Homo sapiens: one gene and its partner. The protein of the gene in region 1 interacts with the protein of each later gene in a pairwise test. Each region holds a gene or a part of one and is shown in the gene's direction. Other genes may lie near its edges.

What was found.
Region 2: the proteins of COL26A1 (region 1) and PCMT1 interact in binary tests that used the Homo sapiens proteins (3 or more experiments, as listed by UniProt).

The regions. Positions count from the first base shown.
Region 1 is NC_000007.14:101,540,775-101,544,524, forward strand, and holds part of COL26A1 (collagen alpha-1(XXVI) chain isoform 1 precursor), read left to right. Parts: intron 1-3,223; coding exon 3,224-3,322; intron 3,323-3,750.
Region 2 is NC_000006.12:149,787,741-149,791,490, forward strand, and holds part of PCMT1 (protein-L-isoaspartate(D-aspartate) O-methyltransferase), read left to right. Parts: intron 1-2,213; coding exon 2,214-2,318; intron 2,319-3,750. UniProt on the Homo sapiens protein: Initiates the repair of damaged proteins by catalyzing methyl esterification of L-isoaspartyl and D-aspartyl residues produced by spontaneous isomerization and racemization of L-aspartyl and L-asparaginyl residues in aging peptides and proteins.

The DNA.
Region 1 (3,750 bases):
GAGGCTGTAGTGAGCCAAGATCATGCCACTGCAATCCAGCCTGGAAGACGGGGTGAAACCCTGTCTCAAAAAAATAGATGATCTTGGGCAGGTGCAGTGGCTCACACCTATAATCCCAGCACTTTGGAAGGCTGAGGTGGGAGGATTGCATGAAGCCAGGAGCTCAAGACCAGCCTGGGCAACATAGTGAGACCCTGTCTCTACAAAAAATTATAAAAATAAAAATGAGAAAATTGGCCATCAGGGCTGGCAGTCCCTCATGGAAACAACCAGCTACTGGGTTGCCACTGTAGGTCCAGTCCAGGCTGTGCAGTTTGCCGCAGTCCCCACCATTCCCTATTGTCTTACAGCTCAGCTACTGTCTTCAGTATCTGCCCTGCTCCTTGGCTTCTGCACTTATGGCCCCCAGCCCAGCCTTGCTGGGTTCAATTTTGCAGCATTCTGCCTGGCCAGGGAGCAGGAACTTACTGCTTCCCACCTCTTTCTGGGGTTTGCTCTCTGAACTCTCTGGCTGGAATTGGAGGACATCTGCCCCCCTGCCTTCCTGCCACACTTTTACAATTTTATTTTATTTTATTATTTTATTTTGAGACAATGTATTGCTCTGTCACTGAGGCTGGAGCACAGTAGTATGATCATAGTTCACTGCAGCCTTCATCTCCGAGGCTCAGGTGATCCTCCTGCCTCAGCCTCCCAAGTAGTTGGGACTACGAGTGCACACCACCACACTTGGCTTTTTTTTTTTTTTTTAATTTTTAGTAGAGACGAGGTCTCACTGCGTTGCCAGGCTGGTCTCAAACTCCTGGCCTTAAGCAATCCTCATGCCTCGGCTTCCCAAAGTGCTGGGATTTACAGGTGTGAGCCACCATGCTTGGCCCTGGCCACATTTTAAAGTTAAGGGGAAGAATTTTCCCTCTGCAGATTCTACCTACTGGTCTGGGCTCTGCCACCTGGGGCTGTAATTACCTTTGCTTTAATCACAATTGTAATAATCATAGTTGCAATCGATGAAGCCCTCCTGGTTGCCAGACACTGAGGTGGGGCTTTATCCTGGAGGACATTTAGCAAACAACACCTGTCTATAAGGCTGAATCCAGGGGTTGAAGGCTGAGGTCTACCATGAGTGGTCAGGATCTGCACTGTGCCAGTTATTAAATATTTTCATATCAGATATGAAAATATTTCAAATACAGATATAATTTTTTTTTTTGACATGGAGTCTCACTCTATCACTCAGGCTGGAGTGCAGTGTCGTGATCTCGGCTCACTGCAACCTCTGCCTCCTGGGCTCAAGGGATTCCCCTGCCTCAGCCTCCCTAATAACTGGGATTACAGGCACGCACCACCAAGCCCCGCTACTTTTTGCATTTTTAATACAGAAGGGGTTTTGTCATGTTGGCCAGGCTGGTCTTGAACTCCTGACCTCAAATGATCTGCCCTCCTTGGCCTCCCAAAGTGCTGGGATTACAGGTGTGAGCCAGCACACGCAGCCTAATTTTTGTATTTTTAGTAGAGACGGGGTTTCACCATGTCGGCCAGGCTGGCCTCAAACTCCTGACCTCAAGTGATCCACCCGCCTCGGCCTCCAAAGTGTGGAATTACAGGTGTGAGCTAGCGCACCCAGCCTACAGATATCACTCTTAATCTTCACACAAAGCTTGGAAGCCTTGAGGTTACAGGGGAGACACCTGAGGCTCAGAGAAGTTAAGTGACACCCCTGGGGTCACCCAGCAAGCCAGCAAGCTGGGGGCATTTTGCCTCCATGATTCTCTGCCCTTAGAGCCCTTTGGAGGGGGCGCTCTCCCTCTGCCCTCTGTTCTGAGTGTCTATTCTGATGCTGGGTTGGGGAGCAGGGGCAGAGCAGGGAGGAGAGATGCATGACACAGGTGGCCTCCAGTGGCCAGTCCCAGGGCCGGGGAAGGAGAGTAGGGTATCCTGCATTCTTGGAAAGGGACTGAAGGCTGCGGGAGGAGGGCCGAGCTCAGGTCTCCTACGGGAAGGGGGACCTCTCTCACTCTGGCCCCCGGCCTACCCCTCGAGCCGCTGTCCCTAAGGTCTCACCCCCAGAGCGTTACCTCATGCCCACATTCTTCAGATCTTTCTTGGGGGATGGAGGAGGAGGGGCTTCCCATCCCACCGGGGACCCAGGCCCACGAAAGCGCATGCCTGGCAAGACCTTTCCAACCAGGGGAAAATGCAGTTTCAAGAATGGCCACCAGGTGGGGCACACACTCTACACATGGTGACACCTGCAGCCAACCTGGATTCCAGAGCGCAGGTGGGGCTCTTCCGAGGCCAGCAGCCCCCAGCCAGGCCCTCCCCACCATACCACAGTCCCATGCAGGCAGAGTGCAAAGGGCCCTAAGACTCAGTGCAGGTCCCTTCATCAGATCAGCAAACTTTTTTTTTTTTTCTGAGACGGTCTCGCTCTGTAAGCCAAGCTGGAATGCAGTGGTGTGATTATAGCTCACTGCAGCCCAGACCTCCTGGGCTCAAGCCATCCTCCCACCTCAACGTCCCCAGTAGCTGGGGCCACAGGCGTGCACCACTATGCCCGGTTAACTTTTGTATCTTTTGTAGAGATGGGGTCTCACTATGTGGCCCAGGCTGGTCTCAAACTCCTGGGCTCAAGTGATCTTCCTGCCTCAGCCTCCTAAGGTGCTGAGCAAACATTTTTCAGCATCCTCTCTGGGCCAGAGGGAGAAAAGGCTGTCCCCTGGCCACACAGCAAGCCTTACCTCTCCATCTCCTTGTCCACCCTTGGGGTTTAGAGATCTGTAGCTGGGAAGATCCATCCTTCAGGACCTCCTGGGGCCTCCTCGGAGGCCACCTGTTGGGGAGCACTTTGCCACAAGCCCGGTTCTTGACCCTAAGCAGAGAGACAGCAGGGTGTGAGAGAGGGACCTGGAGCTAAGCAACTTCATCTGCAGCCTGGCTGTGTGAGCTTGGGCAAGGGACCAACCTTCCTGAGCCTCAGTTTCCCCACATTGAAAATGGGAACGAAAGCAGTTCTTAGAATCATAGATGTTTGTAAGTGCAAAGCTGGTTTGTAAGTTGTAATAACCAGCTCCAAGGTGATGTGAGTGCCTTTGCCTGTTTAGGGAGTCCCAGGTAGGCAGGGCTCCTGGGGGAACGTAGGCTGACAGCCCAGGGGGCCAGGCCTGGAGCCACTGGAGGCTGGGGGTCCACCATGTTCTGATGCCCTGTCTCCTTCTCTCCCCAGGGCCCCCGGGGCAGACAGGACCACCAGGGCCTGCAGGCCCCCCCGGGTCTAAAGGTGACCGAGGCCAGACAGGAGAGAAGGGTCCAGCGGGGCCGCCTGGTAAGAAAACCCCCCACATATGTGATGTTGTCAACCTGCGGAAGGGGCTGGGCTTTCTTCTCTACTGGAACAGGCGAGGTGTCCCACGCACCCACAGCCCTGATCTTGCTGGGTACCAGAAAAACGGGGTCTTTTTTTTTTAATTTTTTGAGAGGGAGTCTCGCTCTGTTGTCCAGGCTGGAGTGCAGTGATGCCATCTCGGCTCATTGCCACCTCTGCCTCCCGGGTTCAAGCAATTCTCCTGCCTCAGCCTCCTGAGTAGCTGGGATTACAGGCATGCGCCACCACACCTGGCTAATTTTGTATTTTCAATAGAGACAGGATTTCACCATGTTGGTCAGGCTGGTCTCGAACTCCTGACCTCAGATGATCCACCCACCTTGGCCTCCCAAAGTGCTGGGATTACAGGCGTGAGCCACCACCTCACC
Region 2 (3,750 bases), on another chromosome or scaffold:
TCCACACAGTCTTACCATTGGTAAAGCAAATCTCACCATTTGCTTTATCATTTATTCTCTCTCCCTTTATCCCCTCTCTCCTCTGTGTGTGTGTGTGTGTGTGTATGTGTGTGTATTATATTTCCGTTTTTCTGAGCTCTTTGAGGGTAAATTACAGGCATAATGCTCTTTACCTTTAACTTTTTTTGAGATGGAGTCTTGCTCTGTCGCCCAGGCTGGGGTGCAGTGGTGCAGTGGCACGTTCTCAGCTCACTGCAAGCTCCGCCTCTCGGGTTCACGCCATTGTCCTGCCTCAGCCTCCCAAGTAACTGGGACTACAGGCGCCCACCACCACGCCCAGCTAATTTTTTGTATTTTTAGTAGAGATGGGGTTTTACTGTGTTAGCCAGGATGGTCTCGATCTCCTGACCTCGTGATCCGCCTCGGCCTCCCAAAGTGCTGGGATTACAGGTGTGAGCCACTGTGCCCGGCCAATGCTCTTTACCTTTAAAAATAAGGACATTCTCTTACATACCCATAGTACAATTTTTGAAATCTGGAAGTCAGCATTGATATAACACTATTAGCCAATTTATAGACCTTATTCAGATTTCATCAATTATTCTGATAATATTCCTTATAGGAAAAGAAAATAGTAGATTGTGAGTTTTATTTGATTGTCATGTCTTTTTAGTTTCCTTTAAAGAATGACTGAGAAATGGTTCCTTATTCTTTTATGACCTTGAAAACCTTGAAAATTTTTACGAATATGGGCCATTTATTTTGTATAATGTCCCTCAATTTGGGTTTGTTTGATGTTTCCTCATAATTCAATATAGGTTATGCATTTTTGCCTGGCATATCCCAGAAATGAAGTATCTTAGCAGAGGCATTTGATGTCAGTGTGTCCCATAATTGTGGTGTTAACTTTGATCATCTGATTAAGGTAGTGTTGACCCAGTTTTTCCACTGGAGAACTTTTTTCTGAACTCCATTGTAAAATTACTATTTTTCCTTTTGTGATTAATAATTATCTGGGGCAAACCCTTTGAGATTATGTAAATATCCTGTTTATTTTTCAAATGTTAGTCCACTAGTTTTAGCTTCCATTTATGATTTTTACCTGAATCAATCAGTTATTATTGAGATGGCTGCCCAAAGGCTGATTTTCTTAATTTTTTCTATGTGCATTCATTATGTATCTATATATTTGTTGGGAACGGTTTTCCCTATTTTTCATTTATATATGTATAGAATGATGTATTAATTTATCACTATAGATTAATGGATGGGTATTTTTATCAACCAAGATCTGGTAGTAAATGTGTTTACTGCTATTGGATCTGATTTTTTTTTTTTTTTTTTTTTTTTTGAGATGGAGTCTCGCTCTGTTACAGCCCAGGCTGGAGTGCAGTGGCATGATCTCGGATCACTGCAATCTCCCCGTCCCGGGTTCAAGCAGTTCTCTGCCTCAGCCTCCCGAGTAGCTGGGATTACAGGTGGCTGCCACCATGCCCAGCTAATTTTCTTGTATTTTTAGTAGAGATGGAGTTTCACCATCTTAGCCAGACTGGTCTTGAACTCCTGACCTCGTGATCTACCTGCCTCAGCCTCCCAAAGTGCTGGAATGTCAGGCCTGAGCCACCACGCCCAGCCTGATCTGATTATTTTTAATAATGAGAATACTGGCTGGGTGTGGTGGCTTATGTATGTCATCCCAGCACTTTGGGAGGCCGAGGTGGGCGGATCACCTGAGGTCGAGAGTTCGAGACCAGCCTGACCAACATGGAGAAACCTCATCTCTATTAAAAATACAAAATTAGCCTTTGTATTTTTGTATTTGCTTATATATGCAAAGAATCTATTCCTTCCTTTTTGGAAGGAGTCACAAGAAACTAGTAATATTGGTTACCTTTACAGAGTGAAACCTGGATGGTTGGAAATGGGAGTAGGGTGGAGACTTTTCACTTATAAATCTTTTAATTTTTTTACTGAATTAATTAAAAGTTAAAAATTCACACACTGGAGGTCTAAAATTACTGAAACACATGATCTGAATGTAAGAATTCTAATCAAACAGTTTACTTAAGTAATACCTGGGCAGATAGCCAAGATAACTTGGTTATCTTGGTAGATGACAATAGTAGAAAAATTGGTAGAAAGTTGGCAACTTTATTTATATACCATGATGTGTGTACTTTAGTCTTAATGAATATTTTGTTTTCTTTTGGCAGCATGCATATGCGCTAGAACTTCTATTTGATCAGTTGCATGAAGGAGCTAAAGCTCTTGATGTAGGATCTGGAAGTGGAATCCTTACTGCATGTTTTGCACGTATGGTAAGAGTTTTATTTCTCACTCTGGCCCCAACAGAAGAATATTATATGATTTGGCTGTATGTTTTTTTAACTAGTGGTTTTCATGTTTATTTGTTTGTTAATTCTATTAGGATAGCAGTTGGAATGAGCATCACTTAGGATTTTGTTGTTGTTGCAAGTGACAGAACATGCAACCCAAACTGGCAGAGCTAAAAGGGAGTTTATTTAGTTCATATAACAGAAAAGTCTAGGGGTGTATACGGTCTGTTGTGTGGCTGGATTTAGAAGAGCAGATGTTGTTATTGACGATAGGGTTCTCTCTGTTTCTTGATTTGGCTTTACTTTCCTCCACATGTTGGTGTCATTATCCGGTAAGCTCTACCCTTGTAATCACAAGATGGTGGCCAGTAGCTCCCAAACTACCTTCTTCCAAGTTCTGATTTGGCAGAAAAGAATAGAATAAGCCTGGTTTTCTTTTCTTTTTTTTTTTTTTTTCTTCTTAAAAACAGAGGTTTTATTGCATTTGGTCCACAGTTGGTATTTCACCTTATCTCATGGTGCAGGGACCCTGGGTAGGGGACTCTCTACAGTACTTGGTGGGGCATGTGGCTGGGGGAGACAGAGCAGTATAGCTGGTCAGGCCCAGAAGGGGAGAAGGAAGGCTGGAGGCTCCTTAAAACCTACTGAGGGACCAGACGCGGTGGCTCACACCTATAATCCCAGCACTTTGGGAGGCTTAGGCAGGCAGATCACATGAGGCCAGGAGTTCGAGACCAGCCTGGCCAACGTGGTGAAACCCCATCTCTACTAAAAATAGAAAAATTAGCCAGGCATGGTGGAGCACCTGCAGTCCCAGCTATTCAGGAGGCTGAGGCAGGAAAATCCCTTGAGCCCAGGAGGTGGAGGTGCAGTAAGCCTTGATTGCACCACTGCACTCCAGCCTGGGCAACAACAACAACAACAAAAACCTACTGAGGCACAGTGTGGGGGGTGGGCTTAGCATGGAGAGGGGGTCAGGCTTAGCCCCGACAACTCAGAATTCTACTTCCTTGTACAGGCCTCAGTTTCCCCACCGGGCCCTGGGACATGTCTGAGGGTCCCAGGGAAATCCAGTCACTCAGGAGCCTGAGATATTTAGCATCGTAGCTGGGCCCCGTCTCCCAGGGGACTCATTTCCCAGCACCCTCTCCACTGTCCCTGCCCAGAATGAGCCTGGTTTCTAAACATTCCTGCAGATTTACCAGGATGAAGGTAAAACTTCTGCATTAGAAAAAGTGCTCTTAGAAAAATAATGCCTTGTTATACTTCTGCCTTTTCTCATCAGAGTCTTATCTGGTCAATGGCTATCCAGAGTATTAACTGGGGACCCACTAATATATGTTGGAGTAAAGGTTGATCATTGCTTAGATCATCACATCAGTTTGATTTGAGAAATATCGTGCCTGGAGGACAG